Linked DNA regions of Homo sapiens. The protein of the gene in region 3 purifies or fractionates together with the protein of the main gene of each other region. This does not show direct contact. Each region holds a gene or a part of one and is shown on either strand. Other genes may lie near its edges. The genes, in order: C1orf198, WDFY1, LBR, GAN, E2F3 and HAUS2.

What was found.
Region 1: the proteins of LBR (region 3) and C1orf198 purify together in Homo sapiens (co-immunoprecipitation; one large-scale study listed by IntAct). This does not show direct contact.
Region 2: the proteins of LBR (region 3) and WDFY1 purify together in Homo sapiens (co-immunoprecipitation; one large-scale study listed by IntAct). This does not show direct contact.
Region 4: the proteins of LBR (region 3) and GAN purify together in Homo sapiens (co-immunoprecipitation; one large-scale study listed by IntAct). This does not show direct contact.
Region 5: the proteins of LBR (region 3) and E2F3 purify together in Homo sapiens (pull-down; one large-scale study listed by IntAct). This does not show direct contact.
Region 6: the proteins of LBR (region 3) and HAUS2 purify together in Homo sapiens (affinity purification with mass spectrometry; one large-scale study listed by BioGRID and IntAct). This does not show direct contact.

Annotation. Positions count from the first base shown.
Region 1 is NC_000001.11:230,841,022-230,844,521, forward strand, and holds part of C1orf198 (uncharacterized protein C1orf198), read right to left. Parts: intron 2,876-3,500; coding exon 2,333-2,875; intron 1-2,332.
Region 2 is NC_000002.12:223,935,336-223,938,835, reverse strand, and holds part of WDFY1 (WD repeat and FYVE domain-containing protein 1), read left to right. Parts: intron 1-3,500. UniProt on the Homo sapiens protein: Positively regulates TLR3- and TLR4-mediated signaling pathways by bridging the interaction between TLR3 or TLR4 and TICAM1.
Region 3 is NC_000001.11:225,407,539-225,411,038, reverse strand, and holds part of LBR (delta(14)-sterol reductase LBR), read left to right. Parts: intron 1-622; coding exon 623-748; intron 749-3,500. UniProt on the Homo sapiens protein: Catalyzes the reduction of the C14-unsaturated bond of lanosterol, as part of the metabolic pathway leading to cholesterol biosynthesis.
Region 4 is NC_000016.10:81,321,462-81,324,961, forward strand, and holds part of GAN (gigaxonin), read left to right. Parts: intron 1-3,500. UniProt on the Homo sapiens protein: Probable cytoskeletal component that directly or indirectly plays an important role in neurofilament architecture.
Region 5 is NC_000006.12:20,485,379-20,488,878, reverse strand, and holds part of E2F3 (transcription factor E2F3), read right to left. Parts: intron 2,191-3,500; coding exon 2,076-2,190; intron 767-2,075; coding exon 631-766; intron 1-630.
Region 6 is NC_000015.10:42,558,838-42,562,337, forward strand, and holds part of HAUS2 (HAUS augmin-like complex subunit 2), read left to right. Parts: intron 1-501; coding exon 502-571; intron 572-1,944; coding exon of another isoform or gene 1,945-2,033; intron 2,034-2,432; coding exon 2,433-2,565; exon of another isoform or gene 2,566-2,853; intron 2,854-3,500.

The DNA.
Region 1 (3,500 bases), 5.4 Mb from region 3:
CTGCTTCTCTTTAGAGTGGGGACTATCACCTATTTTATGGAAATACTTCTTTCAGAGGAAGCCCTCAGTGCCGAGTCTCAGAGAAAGAGTGCTGGTTAGGGAGGCAGGGAACTGAGCCTGTCTGTAAGGAGGAGCTGATGGGCAGGAGGATGTGAGACAGAAAACAGAACGGAGAGATGGGCAGGTACCGGAGAAGGCAGGAAACAAGAGGGCTGAAAGCACTAGCTTAAGAAGGTGCAGAAACACGAAGAGGACAGGCTAGAGCACTGATGTGGAGCCGAGGTGGGCAGAAGGTACTAGCACCGCTGGATCCTCCCTCCTCGGGAGGACAGCACGTGCAGCCATCTGCCGAGGGAGGTGTGGAAGTACTGGAAACCTGCTCTGGGGGACATTCAATGTTATCAGTGATGATCTCAACTCAACAACAAAATAACCAAAAATTTAAAAATGGGCAAGGGACCATTGGACATTTCTCCAAAGAAGATACACAGATGGCCAATAAGCACATGAAATGAGGCTCAACATCATTCACGATCATGGACAGGCAAGTCTAAACCACGGTGAGACACCACCTCATACCCCTTCGCATGGCACCAGCAAAGACACAGAAAATAACAAGTGTTGCAAGGGAGTGGAGAAACGCGAACCCACATTGATGGGAATGTAAAATGACGCAGCTGCTGTGGCGAACAGTATGCAGGTTCTTCAAAAAAGTAGAAATAGAACCACCATGTGATCCAGCAATTCTACATCTGGGTATGCACCCAGGAGAAGGGAAAGCAGGGGCTGGAAGACTTATTTGTACATACACGTTCACAGCAGCACTATTCCTAACAGACAACAATAGCCAGAAGGTGGAAGCAACCCAAGTGTCTGTCGATGGATGAGTGGATACACAAAATGTGGTCTAACCACACGATGGAATATTAGCCTTAGAAGGCAATTCTACACTTGCTACAACATGAATGAGCCTTGAAGACGTCACATTAAGTAAAGTAAGTCAGTCACAAAAGGGTAAATACTATATGGTGCTACTTATATGAGGTACCTAGAGGAGTCAAATTCACAGACACAGAAAGTGGAATGGTGGTTGCCAGGAGCTTGCGGGGAGGGATGAATGAGAAGTTAGTGTTGAACGGGTCCAGAGCTTTAGTTCTGCAGGATGAAAGGAGTTCTGGAGATGGATGGTAGTGATGGTTACACAGCATTGAGAATGTACTGAAATGCCACCAAATTTATACTGTAAAATGGTTAAAATGGTAAATGTTTGTATATTTTACCATAATAAAAACTTTTAAAATTCAGTATATGGAACCAGCCCAAATGCCCACCAATCAATGAGTGGATAAAGAAACTGTGGTATATATATACGATGGAATACTACTCAGCCAAAAAAGGAATGAATTAATGGCATCTGCAGCGACCTGGATGTAATTGGAGACTATTATTCTAAGTGAAGTAACTCAGGAATGGAAAATCAAACATCATATGTTCTCACTCATAAGTGGGAGCTAAGCTATGAGGATGCAAAGGCATAAGAATGACACAATGGACTTTGGGGACTCGGGGAAAGAGTGGGAGGTGGGTGAGGGATAAAAAACTACAAATTGGGTTCAGTGTCCACTGCTCGGGTGATGGGTGCACCAAAATCTCACACATCACCACTAAAGAACTTATGTCACCAAATACCACCCAAAACCTATGGAAATAAAAAATTTAAAAAATAAAAATTAAAAAAAAAAAGAGTGACCCACAAGAACCAAGGAGTCTCAAGGGCCAGAGGAGGATGGGTGAGGCTACCATGGAGGCAACTGCATCCTGGGCTCACTCCTCAGCAAGGCAGCCAGGAGCCCAGCGAGGCCCACAGAGGGGCAAGACCCAGTGAGGCCTCTCAAGTGTGCCTGCCTGCTTTGCCAACAGGCAGCTCCCCTGGCCCAAATCCAGACCAGTCCTAAAGAACAGACCATTGCCTCTATGGACAGCTCCCAAAAAGAAGGCCCAACACAGCTTTGAGCTGTGACAGCCCTGGGCGCAGCGCCTTCCAGGGGCCTCTTCTGATAGCAGCCCGCGCACTGGGGAAAGCGCAGTGGGCCACGGAACCCTGACTGGTAAACAAATTAGGGCACCCAGATGGACTCGCAAAACTTGTCTTGTTGCATATTTGTTGGTGGCTCAGCACCCTGAGCCTAGGCATCCTCTGAGGAAGAGGCAGGGGAAGGAGAAGAAAAAGAGCATGGGCACCTGTGGCCTGCCTGCTTTGTGGGGGACCCTCTCGGTTCCCGTGGAATAAGGCACCATCCCATCTGAGGACGCGCTGGTAAAGGCCACTCACCTGTGCAAACTTGGGTTCCGAGAACAGGGTGTCTTCCCCATCGTCCTGCCTGACATCAGGAGATGGCAGCTTCCCCTCGAGCTGGGAGGGGGCAGCCTCGTGCAGTGCACTGCTGAAGGCCTGGACAGGCTGGGGTCTCTCACGTTCGGTGCTCACGTTGGGAAGAGGACGCTGCTCCTGACGGAGGGTGCTGGGCCTTTCCACCTTGGCCTCCCTGTCCTTCGGGGCAGGTTCCTGCCGGTAGCAGGGAGGCAAGACCTTTTCCCCCTTCTCCATGGACTTGATCTGGCTAGGGGTCAGCGACTGGAACTCGGCCTCAGGCCCCTCCCCTCGGGACCGCTCAGCATTGATCTTCCAGAATGACGCTTCCTCCTCCTTCCTGGTGGGGCCCAGGGCGTCCAGGCTGGAGGACCTGCTGCCTTGGGAGGACTTGAGGGCCTGGGAGCCCTGGGAAGCTTTGGACAGTGGTCTGGGCTCGCTGGCGGCGGTGCCGTTGCTCGGCTCCTGGATGGATAGGGCGGAGATACTGAACTCCATCTGACTCTAGGGTGGGACATGAGAAAGGACAGAAAAAAGAAAGAGATCCTGAGAATCGACCGTCACAAGTGTGCCAGCTCACGCACCCCTCCTCAGCATAAGGACGCACACCAGCCACACACGAGTTGTTGCCCATGTGCTGGAACTGTCTGTCCTGAGTGGTGGGTATGGTCAGGACTCCCATCGCACACCTGAAATGCATCAGAAGCTTAAATGCCAAGGCCGGGTGACAGAGTGTGGGTGGTGGTCCCCTCCCAAATCTCATGTCGAACTGTAATCCCCAGTGCTGGAGGTGAGGCCTCGTGGGAGGTGTCTGGATCACAGGGGCGGATGTTGTCTTCATGATGGTGACTTCATGGCTTGGTGCTGTCTTCATGATAGTGAGTCCTCATGAGATCTGGTCGTTTAAAAGGGTGTGGCACCTCCCCCTGACTCTCTCCCTCTTGCTCCTGCTCTGCCATGTGAGATACCTGCTCTCCTCCGCCTTCCACCATGAGCCACAGCCCCCTGAGGCCTCCCCAGAAGCCAAGCAGATGCCGATGCCATGTTTCCTGTGCAGCCCGCAGAACCGTGAGCCAATTAAACCTCCTCTCTTTATAAATTACCCAGTCTCAGGTATTTCTTTAAAACA
Region 2 (3,500 bases), on a different chromosome or scaffold from region 3:
TTTTTTTTTGTCACCTTCTGGGATATATTTACCTGGGGTCATTCACAGATAGCCACCTAGTTCACTGTAATCAAACTGCATATGACAAAGCTAGATACGGTCAGCACTCCAAAGAGTATTAAGCCAATGTGGAATATCAAAGCTTAATGCCATTACACCTGGGAGTCACAGGTCATTAGTGGTTTGGGTGGTCAGCTTAGGGTTCTGCTTAGAAACCTTTATGGATTAATGTCTCGTGAATGGTTAATAGAAAATGGTACTACTTCTTGTATGAAGTCATTAGTATTTTGCTGAAGTAATAATTACCTTAAGCTCTTTAATTTAAATTTAAGTTTAAGAATTTGAACTACAGTGGTGACTTTCCTGGTAGGGGAAACAGAAAATAAGACTCTGCTTTCAGAGCGGAACTAAAATGGTGAGACAGTAGGAACCAGTATGTTTGCTTTTTGGACTTTTTTGCTGTGGACTGCACCAAAAATGTAGACAGTCAGTTGATTGAATGATACAATTTTTAAAAGGTAAAAGCTTTATAAAGCCTTATAAATAAGTTAAGGCTATAGGCCTACTGTCTTCACTTTTGAGAAATAGAGTTTGTGGATGGACGTACTTATACTGTTGCATTAGGGGCTCGTAGGCCAAGATTGGTTTCTGCAGGAAACTCAATTTTGTTTGTCCCAAGTTAAAGATAAATCTCATGTGATTTAAAATGTTTTGAGATGTTGCACTTAGGCTGGGAAAGAGTAAAGATTACAGAAAACCAACTTTTAGATGTTTTTTAGCATTTTCCTTTTTTAAAAATTATACCAAATATGTAATATATTTGCTTCCACTTAGATATATCTAAGTTTATTAAGATGGTTTGGGGAAAAATTTGTGTATTTACCAATTGTTCACATAGAAACAATCTTAAATAAATAACTTGATTTTTAAGTGTTATGCCTGGGAGGAAGGCTGGCATAGCTGGAATTCATTAGTTAATACAGAAAACCAGGATGTTAACTGCTGTATTTTCATTGTCATGCAGAGCCTAAAAGTAGACTTTAATTTGTGTTATAAAATAAACTGAAGACTTGAGAAGGCAGGAAGCCTGGGTGGCCACCCCACACATTTACTCCTGTATTGTTAGGGTGATCCTTCATTGTTACAATCATTTTCTTTTTATAGCATAGTTAAGAACAAAGGCTTGGGAGCCAGAATGCCTCAGTTTGAATCCCAGCCCTGTGATCTTAGACAAGTTATTTAACCTCACTGTATCACAGTTTTCTCATGTGCAAAATGGACATGAGTCCGTTTTGTACCTGCTTTACAGAGTTTTGTGAGGATTAGGTGAATTAAACCACGTGGAACAGTGCCTAGCACAGAGAAAACATTATGCAAGTGTTAGTTGTTATTGTTTTCATTCCCATTTATTTTCCATTTAATTGCTTTAATCTTAAAGACTGGGACAGAGAAAGCACTATACAAGTGTTAGCTATTATTATTTTCATTTCCACTTATTTTGCATTTTGTTACTTTAATCTTACGAAAGAGTAATATGTTTCTACTTTGTATGCATGTTTGTGTGTGCACGTGAATAAGTGAAAATAAAAAAATTTTTCCTGTTTGAATAGGACAATACCATTTGAGGGGTTATTTACAATCCTAAATTCTTAGAACTGCCTTTGAGTCATGCCTTTTCTTTATTTCCATATTTGGTTACTTGCAGGTCATGTCAGTGATTAGTTTCACTTAGACATCTTTCCCCTGCTATATTTGAGATCCTCAAGATCGGGTTCATTGATTCACTAGAAAGATTGACACATTATAGTCATACGCATGGCTGTGATTTATCATAGCCAAAAGACGCAAAACAAAATCAGCACATGGGGTGAAATCCAGAGGAAACCAGACACAAGGCTTCCAAGAGTCCTCTTCCTGTGGAGTCACAGGACAGGCTAATTCAGATTGAATTAAGACAACATGTGTGAAATATTGTTTATCAGGGAAGCTCCTTAGAGACTTTATTCAGTGTTAGAGGCTGGTCATGTAGGTGCCCTTGGCTAATGTTCCAAAATTCCAAACTCTCAGAAGGAAGGTAGGTGGTCAACATAAACCACATATTTTATACAGGCATGAAGCACAGTGAGCCATTCTTAGGAGTTAGGGAATGGTGAGGTCCCCTCTGGATAAACAAGGTCCCAGACACCTGCCAAGGGCCAACCTTGCAAGCAAGACTTTCTAAGGACAGCAGCAGCAGGCCTGCTGTGGGAACTCTTTTCTGCCCACCTGCCCATAATTACCCTAGTGTTTGTCCTCATCATCTTTTAAACCTCATTTTTCAAAGCCTATTAACTGGCTTCCCTGAGTTCCAGCATACTGTACTTGGATCTGTCCCACTAATCTCCTATCTTTAACTAGGCTTTTATTGTGTCTTTTTCCTGCTCATGACCTTTCATTAGCTCCTTATTTAATCATGTCTGTAAAAGGACTTTGGGGGCCGGGCGCAGTGGCTCATGCCTGTAATCACAGAACATGGGGAAGCTGAGGCAGGCAGATTGCTTGAGGCCAGGAGTTAGAGACCAGCCTGGCCAACATAGTCAAACTCTGTCTCTACTAAAAATACAAAAATTAGCCAGGTGTAGGGGCTCATGCCTGTAATCCTCCCAAGAAGCTGGGCTGAGGCACGAGAATTGCTTGAACCCAAGGGGCATAGGTTGCAGTGAGCCAAGATCATGCTGCTGCCCTCCAGCTTGGGCAATAAAGCAAGACTCTGTCCCCAAAAAAAAAAAAAAAAAAAAGGACTTTGGGAACCCCATAACTGCTCCCTGCTAAGCTTTATTTCCACCTTCTATCTCTCATTTATTATGGTTCTTTTGTGTCCAGTGAAGTCAGTGTGTGTTCTGTCCCACTCACACCTGGTACATTTCCCACCTGGGTGCCTTTGCCTCCCTCACCAGGAACCTCACTTGCCCTCTCTCCTGTATTCAGACCCTCCTTCATCTCCTAGATCCACTTCAAGTTCCACCTCCTCCATTGAATAATTCTTCCCAGCCCATCATTCTCTGTCCTTTCTGAGCTTCCTTCAACACTCCTAGTATATTACTGATGATGCCTAGTTAATTACAATCAGGTATTAGTTCCTGTTGCTTTGTGTTTATTCATCTTATCTTCCCACATAGTCTGTACTCCACCAGGTACTGCATAACTAGCTACTGGTTGAATGATACAGACTTAACCATTTCTGCACAGTAGACATTTCCTCTGCTGTGTTTAGCTTTAATAATCTGCTAGTTCTTTCCTAAGAAGCAGATGGTAATATAATGAATGATACTTGTTTCTAGAATTTAGGTATTCATCTTCCCTCTCTACAAAGTATGCTCAGCAAATCTTTCTGAGAGTTGTTAAGACATTATTAGCACATATATACTGATTTCATGATGTATTTTTGTCATACTTCATGGTGAAATAATCTCTTTATTCATTTTTCTTTGTCAACCACATACTACTTTGCTCAAAACACT
Region 3 (3,500 bases):
CCTTTTTAAATTTTACCTAGTTTTAGGCTTGGAGTTGCAGATAGAGAGCAAAGAGTTCCCTTCCACCCTTCATTCTGTTTCTCACAACATTAACCTTGGAGGAAACCGTAGTGTAGTGATGAAGAACAGCAGATTAACATAGTGACAGCATTGGTTACCAAGTCCACAGGCCTCAGTCGAGTTCACCAGTTTTTCCGCTGTTGTCCTTTTTCTGTTCCAGGAACCTCGACAGGACTCCACAATACATTTAGTTGTTATTCCTTCTTAGTCTTCTCTAGTCTAATAGTTGTTTAGGCTTTCCTTGTCTCTCATGACCTTGATACTTTTTGGAAGGTACTGGTTGGTTATTTTGTAAGTGTCCCTCAGTTTGGGTCATTCCAGTGTTCTCTTTGATTGCGGTAAAGTTACCCACTGTGACAGGAACACAGAAATGATAGCTGTGTCCTTCTCAGTGCATTGGGTCCAGGGGCCCATGGTGCTGAGATGTCTTATTCCTGGTGGCGGGTAGGAGTTACGGTGGCGTCTGCCAGGTGTCTCAGCTGTGAAGCTCACTCATGCCTTTGTAGTGCTAAGGTCTCTGGGGAGGTGCTTTGAGGCTATATACTTTCCCCTTTTGTTTCAGGTGGTTATTAACTTGGTGATGCTTTTGGCTGAAATGAAAATACAGGACCGCGCTGTTCCATCCTTGGCCATGATTTTAGTTAATAGTTTCCAGCTTCTCTATGTGGTGGATGCTCTCTGGAATGAGGTAATTAATTTTAAGAGCCGAGGCCTTGGAGTCAGATGGCTTTGAGTGGGTGAGTGACCTGTCAGAGCCTCGGCTTCTTGCACACAAAGTGAGGGGAGCATGGCCTGCCTCCAAGGCTGCTTGAGAGGAGGACGAGGCCATCCATGTGAAGCTGACGAGGGAGCACTGACAGGTGGGAAGTTTCTAGGCATTTGGGAGTGCTTCAGTGTTTATCAGCTGTTCTTGTGTTTAAAAGTAATATTCTAAATATTTAAGATTGGTGGATCTTGGTTTTGTTTTTGTGGGTGGTGGTAATTATGGTATCACATGAAAATGGATGGATTATTACTAAATTAGAATGGTGTTTCTTGGACTGTCAAGAGTCACCTAGTTTTTAAATAATGGGGGAGATGTTTTATTGTTAATGTTTTAAAATACAAAGACTAGCTCTAATTAGATGAATGTAAAATCAGAAATCAAGATGCATTGAGGAAACCAGTTGAAATAAGGCTAAGTTTCCATCTTGTGTCTTTTTTCATACATTGATTAGTCTTTCTACTAGTTGAAGACTGGTAAATGTTTTGTTTGTTTTCTCTGTCTCAGCCAGCATATTCCTTTTAAAAATTTTGTCTTCCTCAGGCTTATTTTACAAGTATTTTATCGTATTTACTGTTATCTTTGTAATTATCTCCAAATTCCAACTCTAGTTTTCTTTCCATATTAAAAACAAATCTGGCAGCTGTACATCATAATGTTCCAAAACAAGTTTTAGTGACAGTCTGTTGAGACAATCTGCTGACATTTTGAGAGAAGACCTTTTCTCTTTGAGCCTGGAACATTAAAAAAAATTATATTATTTGGTCATCAATACTATGTATCTCCCCCACCCCTGCTGGCTGGTCTTTAATTTTGGCCTTCTATGCAAAATTGCAGAGAACATTTAGTCAGAACAACTTCGCAAGTTTGATATTGGTGTTTCGATGATCTCCTTGTTATTTAGGAAGATTAGGGCCACTTTGAGGTAAACCTCAATTACAAGCGGTGGGATTAGTGCTATCCGCTAATTACGGGTTCCTGTTGCGCTCCTACCACTTCACAGACCCTGGCTCAGAGCTTGGGAAGCTGTGAAGGTGGTGATAACACTTCAAATTGACTTTAAAAATTCCACGTCGACCCAAAATTAAACATGTTTTTGAAATTAAAAAACAACTGTTTTGTAAATGCACTTACTGTTACCAGTGTAGCTTTGTTTGCTGTTATAGAATGAATCGCCAAAAGAGCATATAGGTTACAGTTTGCAAATCAAATGATATTTCACAGTTGTGCTCACCTCAGAGGCTTCTTTAAACCTTCCTTTCTAGTAGCTTTCCACTGATCAGTGATTATTTCTTCTGGTTTCTTCTATTACTAGCTTTCTGCCATGTTGTGGTTGTCACTTTTTAATTGGCTTAGAAGTTGATATTTTCTATAGATTTAGCCAAACATTGACTTGTGTTAAAAGAAAATTTTTTGCATCTTAAGGCAAAACGCTTAATGCAATATTAACATAGCCCCAGGGGTAGAGAACTAGAGTTAGGAAATTGTTTTCTGTCTGTTCTCAGTATCTCAGCCAGATGATAATAAGCTTCTTGAGGAAAGATTGTATTTTATGATTTCTTCAGCATTCTGGCATGCCACTGGGCAATTAGCAGATGCTTAATAACTTCTGTCAGGTCACTTGATAGAAATCCCTCTGTATTCAAGAATGTGCTATACCTTAAGAAAACTGAGACTACCTGTTTAAATATGCATGACCCTTCCTCTGAGCCGTCCTGTGAAAGCCTTGGGGCTCAGGAGCTGGTGGGGCTAAGGTCCTCCCCCTACCCGGCATTGGGTGCTTACCCTTTGCCCTCTCACTGCCACTCACCACACCTGCTTTTATCTGCTCCCACCAATTTGTCACCTTTATCCTCTTTTGGACCAGGAATCAGATCACAGGCCTTGAGAGAGAAGAATAAGACACTCTTGGGGACAGAAAGTTAAAACACCGTGTGTCCTCACTTATATGTGGGCGCTAAAAAAGTTGATGTCATAGAAGTATAAAGTAGAACAGAGGATATGGGAAGGTGGGAAGGGTAGGGGGAAGGGAAGGATAGGGAGAGGTTTGTTAAAGGATACAAAATTACCACTCGATAGGAGGAGTAAGTTCTAAGTTCTAGTATTCTATACCACTGTAGGATGACTATAGTTAACAGTGATACATAGTTTCAAATAGCTAGAAGGATATTGAATATTCCTAACACAAAGAAAGAATGTGTTTGAGATGATGGATATGCTAATTACCTTGATTGGATTACTATATATTACATGTATTGCAACATCACTGTGTACCCCATAAATATGTACGATTATTACATGTCAATTTTTTTTTTTAAAGAGAATAAAGTACTCTGGTTAACTAAAGAGTATAAGCCTAAGGAGCTAGATTTTGTGAGATTGGTTTTTCTGTTTCATGTGACATCTGTTTTTCTGTTCCATGGCCTATTTGCTTTCTTTTCTGGAAAAAAATGCTATTTAGAGGTACCACTCTTTTTCTTTAACCTAGAACTTTGATTCTCCAACAGAGCTTATACTGGCTAATATTTCTACATCAGTGGTCTGTACTGAGGTTCTGGGTAGTTTAGAGATTCCCTTAGGCCAGACCTTCAGAGTGTTGACCTTGGTGGTGGTTCCGTATTCTAGAGTCTGGCCTGCCCGTATCCTGGGCCAGAGGCGATCTGGCTCATGCTAACCA
Region 4 (3,500 bases), on a different chromosome or scaffold from region 3:
ATAATTTAGGATTGAAGTAAAATGCTCTTCCACATAGAAACTCTGGTTCCTTAGGATTTATATTTGGATGATATAGAGTAAGCATCCAGTTTTCAAAACCGCCTTATCCATTGTTTAAAGTGTTAATGAGTTCTTATGATATCAAAGTGGGACTTAAAATCTATTTATAATTTGTAAGGAAAACATAATTAGGACAAATAAGGGTTCATTTGGTCTGTGAGTGCCATGCAATAAGTTCTTCACAGGGTTGCATCATCCTTCTGAAAGACACAAGACTATCATTTTGTGTACTAAAGCTGTAATATAAATGAATGATTTGTGAGTTTGAATTCTGGGTTAAGGGTGGAGATACGGGGGTGTGAGATGTGACACGTGGCAGGCTATGGTTGCGACCTTGCATTTGAGCGCTTCCCATGGGTTCTCTTCCTCCTAAGCCACAACAAATCCAAAGAAGGAAGGAAATCAAAGGCTCAGGTAAAGGTGGCAGCTCTGGCTCTGTGGAGGATAAAGATTCTATGTCCATCTAGATGGCCCGACACTCTACCAGAGTTCCTGATTCTGGTGCTTGGAAGAGCAGAGTTAAATCATCTTCCTAAGTACTTAGGGCCAAAGAGTGACTTAGCCATAGAATGATGGTCAGATGTTTGCTGCATTCATTTCTCTCTGGGAATGTGAATGCCCTAATTTCTCATAAAGATTATTACAGAAATACTGCAAAATAGAAATACGTAGTACTTTGCCATTTGCTATTATAGTGAAGGGATTTGGACTTTTCCTCTGTTCAAATAAGTTAGAAAAATGGAATACTTAGGTAAATAAGATCTTGGTGAAATATTTTGTTGGTTATCTCCAGTGTTCACCACATGCAGAGGAGATAAGACATCTCAGCAGCGGCTAGGTACTAGCAAGATGGTGGCAACCAACTGGCAAGGCCTTTGCCCTTCTGGAGCCTCCATTTCAATAGAGTAAGGCTTAGAGGGCCAATGCGTATCATAAATGGAAGATAGGAGGACTAGTTTTTAAAAGTTGACTGTTGAATAATGAAATACAGACCAATTAAATATCTTTGGGGTTTATTTGGATTTGAGTTTTTATAGAAACTTAAATGTATATTTTTGCTCGTAGATATTTTGTGGTTCTCTCAACTACAAAGTTGTTTATGTTTTTAAGAACAATTTTAAAGACCATTTGATGCTTGTGATTTTTATGGTAACATATTAATATGACTAGATATATTTTGAAACATAGTTTTATGGTCCTATTAGCATTCATCAGTAACCAGTTGCCTACACCTCTGAATAATAGTAAATGGTTTAGTATTACTGAGCTCAAAATATTTGCACTTTTGTCACTTAAATTGTTTATATTGATCAGTCCCTGAATTGTAAGAAACTTCATACTGAAACCTCACATTTAGGCTGTGAGTTTGATATGAGTCTTTTCTAACCCACAGAGAACATTCACTAGAAATGAAGCCAGAAGTTTAAGGACAGCGGGATTTTGAAGGACAATGAAAATCCTTAGAAAGTTCCCTGATATTCGTGTTTGCCATTCTCCTCTCCATGCTACAGCCCCCAGTCTACTTCAGTGATGGAGCTGGAGGCCAGCAGGACCCATTGGTTAATTGTATAGTCTTCCATTTGGTTAGTCCAGGGAATAGTTTCCCACAACTTCTAGCTTCTCTTCCTTACATGAAAGTTGGTACAGGGATTTGACACTTAGTATAACAGATAAGAGACTTCTCTCGGGGTTTTTGGTGGGTTTGTTTGTTCTCCTGCTTGGCCTCCTTAACAGCTACTGTCTTGTGCGACCAAAGCTATCAACTTTGTTCCCCGCCTAAAAATTACAATGCCTGCTGTTGGTAGGAAAGGAATAGACATCTCATTTTTATCACCCCCTGAGTGGGGTGCTTGAGCAAAAGAGGTTACCATTTCCTTTATTTATAGGCTTCTTTCATAGTGATCAGAAAAGGGGTTATGAAAATATTCACTGTCATAATAAGTCTTGGGACATCCTTAAGAAATGTCATCACTGCCTTAACCCATATGCTGTGGGGTTGTGTTTACCAATAATAGATTGCAGTTCAAGAATTAGCATTGTCTAAAGTTATTGAGATATACTGTGTATTGTTTCTTCACAGATATATTTCACAGTAAAGGGACCTTCTATATAATTAGGGTGTTGTTTAGGGAGTTGATTACAGGTTTAGTCGTTTAATACATACACAGGAGATAACTCAAGACATCTCAGCAGCATCTATGTACTGGCAAGATGGTGGCAACGAACTGACAAGGCCACTGTCCTCCTGGAGCCTCCATTTCAGTCATTTACAGAGGATTGCGCCCTCCAGGACTCCATCCTCTTGTGCTGCCTGCCATTGGAGCATTGTATTCAGTGGCCTCCCACAGAGAGTATCAAAACTAACCCAGTATGTGGAGACCTATGTCAGTCTATTTATTTTTCTATCTCTGTGGGGCTGGAGAAGGAAATAAACATAAAACTAAAGATTTAAAGATTACTTTTGATTTCACTTAGTTTTTTTATAACATCCTTGTGTTATGGGTAGTTTCAGAATCTCAAGAATGAGCAGAGAATAGATTTGCTGTGTTTATCAGAGTAGAAACTTCTGATAGTCTGCCCTAAAAGAATTTAATTGGCTGATTTGACCCTTTATTATTATAGTGTTACCCCAATTAATCACATTTACAGAAATGACTTTCTTTAAGTAGAGAACATCAGTTCTTGGCTAAGCCTCTCTAATATGCCCGTTTGTTCATTGCCCTTTCTAGACGGAGTGCCAGCATCCATGGGGGCTACCTGGGGAGGTGAGCAGTAAAGGGGTCTAATTACAGAGCCATATGAGTTTGCCGAAGGAAGTCCACAGAGGATGAGCATGGCTGCTGCTGTGGCCTGGGTGACGGGATCCCTGCTCCGAGGTGGTGCCATTGAAACTGAGATCTGAGGGAGGAGGAGACCTAGGCATGAGAAGAGCAGGGGGAGGCACCAGGATCAGGGGTGGCACCAGGACTAGGTCAGGCCTCTCTGGGAACAGAACACCACATACCTGGAGATGGTGAGCAAAGGGTGGGATGGCATCGACAACAGATTAGAGGCTGGGAAGGCCTGTGATCCCTGAGTTAGAGCTGGCATTTAGACTGCTTCCAAAGAAGATGAAACTTCTGCTGCCATGTTGTGTATTGGGAGCTGGCTGGGGAGGTGATAGGATATGAGAAAGGGACAAAAAAGCAATTGATGGCATAGTTGAGTCTGATAGAGAGTTTAGGCTTTATCTTACGGGCTATGGATGGGCAGTGGTGTATTTTAAAAGAGGAATATTTGTTTGTGTATTGTTTTAAAGTCACTCCAATGCAGTGCTGCTGGGTGTGCTCTATAAAAGCCAAGAGTGGAACCAGCGGCCGTTTCAGCAGGTGCTGCAGTTGTTCAGATGGAAAGTGGGATGCCCTGGGCCAGGTTTGGCAGTGGAGGCGGACACAGCAGCT
Region 5 (3,500 bases), on a different chromosome or scaffold from region 3:
GGGATTACAGGCACGTGCCACCACGCACAGCTAATTTTTGTATTTTTAGTAGAGACAGGGTTTCACTGTGTTGGCCAGGACAGTCTCGATCTCCTGACCTCGTGATCTGCCTGCCTCGGCCTCCCAAAGTGCTGGGATTACAGGTGTGAGCCACCGCACCCGGCAAGACTTACTTTCCTAGCGTTCTCCTCCCATATCCTCTCCCCATCTCATTGGGGGGGAAAATAAGACAAAAATTCTCCAACAAAGGCTTTTCTCCTCAAACCTTTTTCATTTCCCTCTCTGATGAGCTCTGCAGTGTGATTCAAAGGTGTGTGGCCAAGTGTCTCTGATGATCCAACAAGACAGTTCACAGCTTTGCTCCTCACTTTAGCTGGTTTTCAAAAATGCTGTAAGGAAACATTCTCTGCCAATAGCAAAAGCCTGAAGCGACTCCATAAGTGGGTGAAGGAGCCGTTTTTCCCAAATCATTATTTTCTTCTGCAAACCAGTCAGAATGTCTTTTAAAACATGTTACCTAATACCAATAGAAGTTTGTGTTTCTTGCCTAGGCTTGTGGTTCCAATACAGATGGTTCTAGTCACCCTCATTTTTAACATAGTTTCTAAAAGACAAAAGTGGAGTTTTTACCTTTGGAAGCGGGTTTAGGGATATTCCCATTGTGGTCTTGGTTGTTTGTTTTCATTGGACTGTGTGTTTCAGTCTCTTCTGGACATAAGTAAACCTCAATGGGCCCTTGGGTACTTGCCAAATGTATTTGTAGGCTCTATGAACAGAAGTGGGAGAAGTTCGAATCAGAAGTTCTTTTAGAAATAAAAGCCATAGTAATTCTTGTCTAAAAATGGAAAGTAAGAACAATGTTCGTTTTTCACTTGCTTTTTCCCTACTAGTCCAACTCTATGAAAGACTGTCATCCTCTAGAGCAGGGGTCAGCAAACCACAGCCTAAGGGCCAAATCCAGTTCACCAAGTGGCTTTGTAAATAAAGTTTTATTGGAAGAGAGTCACATCCATTCCCATTGTTTATTATTGCCTCTGGCTGTTTTCGTATCACAATGTCAGAGGTGCACAGTTGAATAGTCTAGACACAGGCTGTACGGCTCGCAAAGCCAAAAATATTTACTATCTACCTGGCACTTCAATGAAAAAGTTTGCTGAGTCCTGCCCTAGAGAAAGAAAACTATTTTAGTGGGGCTTGGGGGAGAGGGGAGTCATTCTGAAAATAGCACAATGGGTGAGGTGAATTGTGTTCTTTGGATATATTCTTTTTCTGCAAATTATTACAAGGTCCTTTAAGTGTTCCAAATTCAGTATCTCCATGTTATTGTTCCTTTATGGTAGGACTTTTTCATGTTGAACTGTATACTGATGAATAGTATTCTTAAGTGCTAGGAACTGCATCTATTAAGAGAATGCAGCATACCAACATTTAAAAATCTTTTTCATCTAGGTCAAAGAGCTATTATTATCTTTTAAGGTAAGAAGTCTACCCTAGATGGAAGCGTGTAACTTTCATTCTCTTTTTATCTCCTATGCATTTTCTTTTTACTACAACTCTTTATGTTATAGTTGTAGTCTAGGCCTCTATTATCCAAGTATATCTGAAAATTACAAAAATATGCCCCCTACTTTCTTGCAATATTCTAGTCTATCAGCTAACCCAAAGCCCCATGTGATCTCTCAAAATGTTATAAGTTAGGGAGAGACTTTAAAACATTTATATATCTGTTCGTGGTGGGGACCATATACAGGATAATCAATATAAACTTTCCAAAGTGATTCAAATTGATCAAAACCGTTGATGACAAATTATGAAAAAGAGAAAGTATGAGAGGGACAGCGCATCATATACCACTTTGAACTGAACATCCTGCTAGGTCAAAGTTAGGTTGTTTGAATACTCAATGAACATCAAACCATTGAAATGTTTTCAAATGTATGGTTAAGTAAAATAAATGGGAAAGAACCATCAAGTTCATAGGAGGGGGACAGACTTTAACTATGAGTCAATGAGTCATTCAATTTCAGGCATTCCACAAAGATCTTTGCAGATGAACAAAGACGCTGTCTCCTTACCTCTATTGAGTCAGGCACTTCAAGTCTTGTTTCTGGAGGGGCTTTCACAACTATAACAGTTTGGTCTTTAAGGCCACTAATTTTTCGAATATCTTGATATGTAACATAAGCTAACGTAAAGAGTGTCAAGGAATCTTCCATCTAATTACCTCAGATATAAGTATGATGAAAATGACAAAATAGATGCATGGAATATTTTAAAGTATTTTATGACTTAGAAGTATGCATATGTGGCCGGGCGCGGTGGCTCACACCTGTAATCCCAGCACTTTGGGAGGCCGAGGCGGGTGGATCATGAGGTCAGGAGATGGAGACCAACCTGGCTAACACGGTGAAACCCCGTCTCTACTAAAAATACAAAAAGTTAGCCAGGCGTGGTGGCGGGCGCCTGTAGTCCCAGCTACTCGGGAGGCTGAGGCCGGAGAATGGCATGAACCCGGGAGGTGGAGCTTGCAGTGAGACGAGATCGCGCCACTGCACTCCAGCCTGGGCGACAGAGCGAGACTCCTTCTCAAAAAAGTATGTGTATGTCTCCCCTTCTGGATGTGCAAATGTTTAGGGTCTCCCATGAATCTTCATTTCTGGTTGACACTCTAAACAACTAAAGAAATGAATAGCTTTATCCCGCCCATTTCTAAAAAGACTATGGCTATTTAAAATATTAAACATAGAAACAGAACAGTTAAAATAAATGATCATAAGAAAATAAAAAACTAAGTGGTCAGAAATTTTATCTTGAAGCCAGGGTCCTTTGCAGCACAGGCATTCCATGAACTCCAATAAAGTGTTCTGTCACTCAAACTGAATGATGGCAGATTCCAATTTGCAGGAAAAAAAAATGTAATCTCTATTAGCCATAATTTTTTTGAAACTCCAGTTACTTCTATCTACAAGCAAGTGTCAGCAGCCACCAAGTAAATAAATAAGTAACAAATACATTAGTGGAGGAACTCAGAATACTGCTCAGGCAGACAGCTTGTTTTCTTAAGTGCACCTGGGCTGGTTGTGATTATGTACTGCCTACAGAAAAGAGTGTCATTATTTCTGTTAGAAAAATTATGCTTTGCGTGATACTATATTAACTCTATCAATATTTCAGTGTTCATGAGGAAGAAAGCAGTTTCCAGGTGCTCTGCGACTTGAATGAATTTGAGAAACACTGATTTAGGAAAAGAGAAAAGTATAATATCTCAGTACTCTTGGTAGTTATTTCCTTTTTCTTTTTGAGACAGAATCTTGCTCTGTCACCCAGGCTGGAGTTCAGTGGCCCAATCTCAGCTCACTGCAACCTCCGTCTCTGGGGTTAAATGATTCTCGTGCCTCAGCCTCCCAAACAGATGGGACTACAGGCGTGCACCACCACACCCGGCTAATTTTTTTTATTTTTAGTAGAGATGGGGTTTTACCCTGTTGCCCAGGCTGGTC
Region 6 (3,500 bases), on a different chromosome or scaffold from region 3:
GTCCCAGCTACTTGGGAGGCTGAGCTGGGAGGATCACTTGAGCCTAGGAAATCGGGGCTGCAGTGAGCCATGTTTGGGCCATTGCACTCCAGCCTGGGTGACAGACGGAGACCCTGTCTCAAAAACAAAAAAACTTTATTGGTTCAAACAGCAATTCCTTTGAACTTAGAACAGTGTCTAGCACATAACTAGCTAGCTACATGTTTACTTACTAATAGTAGTTACAGTAATAGTAGTAAGAGTAGCAGCAGCAGGGCAAGAACAGCAAAATGAAAAACTTCAGTAAATCCCCTGGACTCTTTTTTTTTTTTTTTTGAGACAGAGTCTCACTCTGTCACCCATACTGGAGTGCAGTGGCACAATCTCGGCTCACTACATCCTGACCTCTGGTGATCCACCTGCCTCAGCCTCCCAAAGTGCTGGGATTACAGGAGTGAGCCACCGCACCTGGCCATGGACACTTTCTGATTGAGCTAAATGTTACTTTTGTTCCTCATGTAGAAAAACCTGGAAATTGAACTCCTGAAACTAGAAAAAGATACAGCAGATGTTGTTCATCCTTTCTTTTTGGGTAAGTGGTTTGGTTAAGTGGATAATCACTGGAATTTCAACTTTTTCTTGGATTACTGTAAATAAGCACCAGTCAGTCAAATTATGATACACCATCATTTTTCCAGGTGTTGTCCCAAAGCTAATGAAATCTTGTATTTCTATGCTGAAATAGAAGTTCTGTTGGCTTGAGTAGTACAAATAGCATAAAAAGTCACCAAATTGGCTCTTCAAAGTCAGGAGAACTTGAAAGACAAAGTCTGAGGAACTTTTCAGATTAAAAGAGACTAAAGGGACATGACAACTAAAGCACTGTATGATCATGGATCGATTTTTTATTTTAATGAGATGGGGTCTTCCTATGTTGCCTAGGGTAGTCCTGAATGGCTCAAGCAGTCCTCCCAAATCACCCTCCCAAGTAGCTGGGATCACAGGTACATACCACCATGGCTGGCAATGTTTTGAATATTTGATGAGAAAATGTTCTTGTGGCCAGGCGTGGAGAGTCACGCCTGTAAACCCAGCACTTTGGGAGGCCAAGGTGGGTGGATTGCTTGAGCCCGGGAGTTCAAGACCAGCCAACATGGTGAAACCCTATCTCTACAAAAAAAATACAAAAACTAGCCAGCATTGTAGCATGTACCTGTAGTGCCAGTTACATGAAAGGCTGAGGCAGAAGGATTGTTTGAGCCTGGGAGGTCGAGGCTGCAATGAGTTGTGATCGTAGCACTCCACTCCAGCCTGGGTGACAGAGTGAGACCCTGTCTCAAAAATTAAAATTCTTTTTGCTGTAAAGGACATTATTGGGATACTTAGTGATGTTTAAATATGGACTGTATTAAATATTGGTAGTATTGTATTAATGTTATTTTTTGAATTTGATAATGTGCTGTAGTTATATAGGAGAATGTTCCTCTTCTTGGGAAATACATGCTAACGTTTTACAGGTAAAAAATATCATGCTGTCTGCAGCTTACTCTAAAGTGGATCAGCAAAAATTAGAGAGAGAGAGAGAGAGAGAGAGAAGAGAGAGAAAGAAGATAAAAAGAAAATGTAGCCAAATGTTAATAATCGGTGAATAAGTAAAATGTATGTGTGAGTTCACCAAGCTTTTTTTGAAACTTTTCTGCAAATCTGAATTTTTCCAAAGAAGAATTTTAAAGAAAGGTCAATTGGCAGCCATTAACTGAATGGGGAAAATAATGAGATAATCAGAAATAGCTTGTAGGATGACTTTTTTTTTTTTTTTTAAGAGTGTGTCACTCTGTAACCCAGGCTGAAGTACAGGTCGCTGTAACTTCAACACGTGGTTTCAACTGATTCTCTCAAGTAGCTAGGACTACTGGCATGTGCCACCATGCCCAGCTAATTTTTGTTTTTTCAATTTTTTTGTAGAGATGAAGTCTTGCTATGTTGCCCAGGCTGGTCTCGAACTCATGGCCTCAATTCTCCCGTTTCAGTCTCCCAAAACACTGCGATTACAGGTATGAGCTAGAGCACCAGCTAAGGTGACTCTTTTTCGATGGTCTTTTATAGACTATTAGAGTCAGGGATAGGAAAAAAGACTTTGTGTTAAGAATATAGCTCTGGCTATAAGAACTGAATAAGAAGTAGAGATGAGAAACACAGAGAAAGAATTTAGCACTAGATTTGGTTATCACTAGGAAAAGAGATAATAGAAATATATTAGATATACAAAAACCGACTAAGAGAAAGTTGTTGAAAATGAAATTGGTATTGGTATTAAAGACAGCAAAAAGGAGACAGGAGGGTAATGATAGGATGAATTTTTGACATGGGTAGTGTCAAACCAAGGCAAAGAAGAAATTATTCTGTTATTTGTCCTATTGCTAACTATAATTACTGTTTTTTAATTTGTATAGCTCAGAAGTGTCATACTCTGCAAAGCATGAATAATCATTTGGAAGCAGTGCTGAAAGAGAAGAGATCCCTTAGGCAAAGACTGTTGAAACCCATGTGCCAGGAAAACTTACCTATTGAAGCTGTTTATCACAGGTTAGACTGAAAAGTAGAAATTAACAGTTACACCTGTTTTCTGAGTTTACTTTTTGTTTTGCAGTTACTTTGTAGCAGAATTCATAAAACAATTAGTGATTGTATTTGTTAACATTATTAATGGTGATATATTAAATCAGAAAGAAAATCTTTGCTTTTAAACCATTATACCTATGGCAAAAAGGAAGAACTTGGCCATCGTGTTTTGGGAATTATAAATTATGAGTTTAATGAAAGAAATTAGATCCATAACATGTAACAATAAAAACTGTTTGTATGTGAAGTAAATTCATTGTTGTAAAGTACATTCATTGTTGAGTTAATGTTGCCTATATGTAAAAATTCTATTGGCGGGGTTTAACTGGGGCAGATGAAAACACTATCAACTAAGGGAGGAAAAAACCTGGATTCTGTTCTCATCTCTACTGTTTATATGCCTCAAAGCCTTGAGCAAATGATTTACATTTTTGCCTTAGTTTCCCAATAAATAGAATAGAGATGAGTTCTATTGCCCTCTTCCTCACAGAGTATTACAAGTATCAAATTGAAGATGTAGATTATGACTAATGATAAATACTAGCCTGGACAACATGGCAAAACCCTGTTTCTACAAAAAAAAAAAATATAAAAATTAGCAACACATGATGGAACACACCTGTATTCCTGAGCTGGGAGGGTGACCTGAGCCCAGGAGGTCAAGTCTGCAGTGAGCTGTGATTGCACTAGCCTGGGTGACAGAGTGAGACCCTGTCTCAAATAAATACGAAGCAAGCATCTGGGGATCTCATTGCTAACTTTCTCCGCCAGTGCCTCACTAGCTTAAGCAAATCAGTATCTTAAGTGTCAGATTTTTTATTTTGTAGGAAAATAATAGATATACAAAAACTTATTCTTCCAAAAAAACAAAACAAGGCTGGGCACAGTGGCTCATGCCT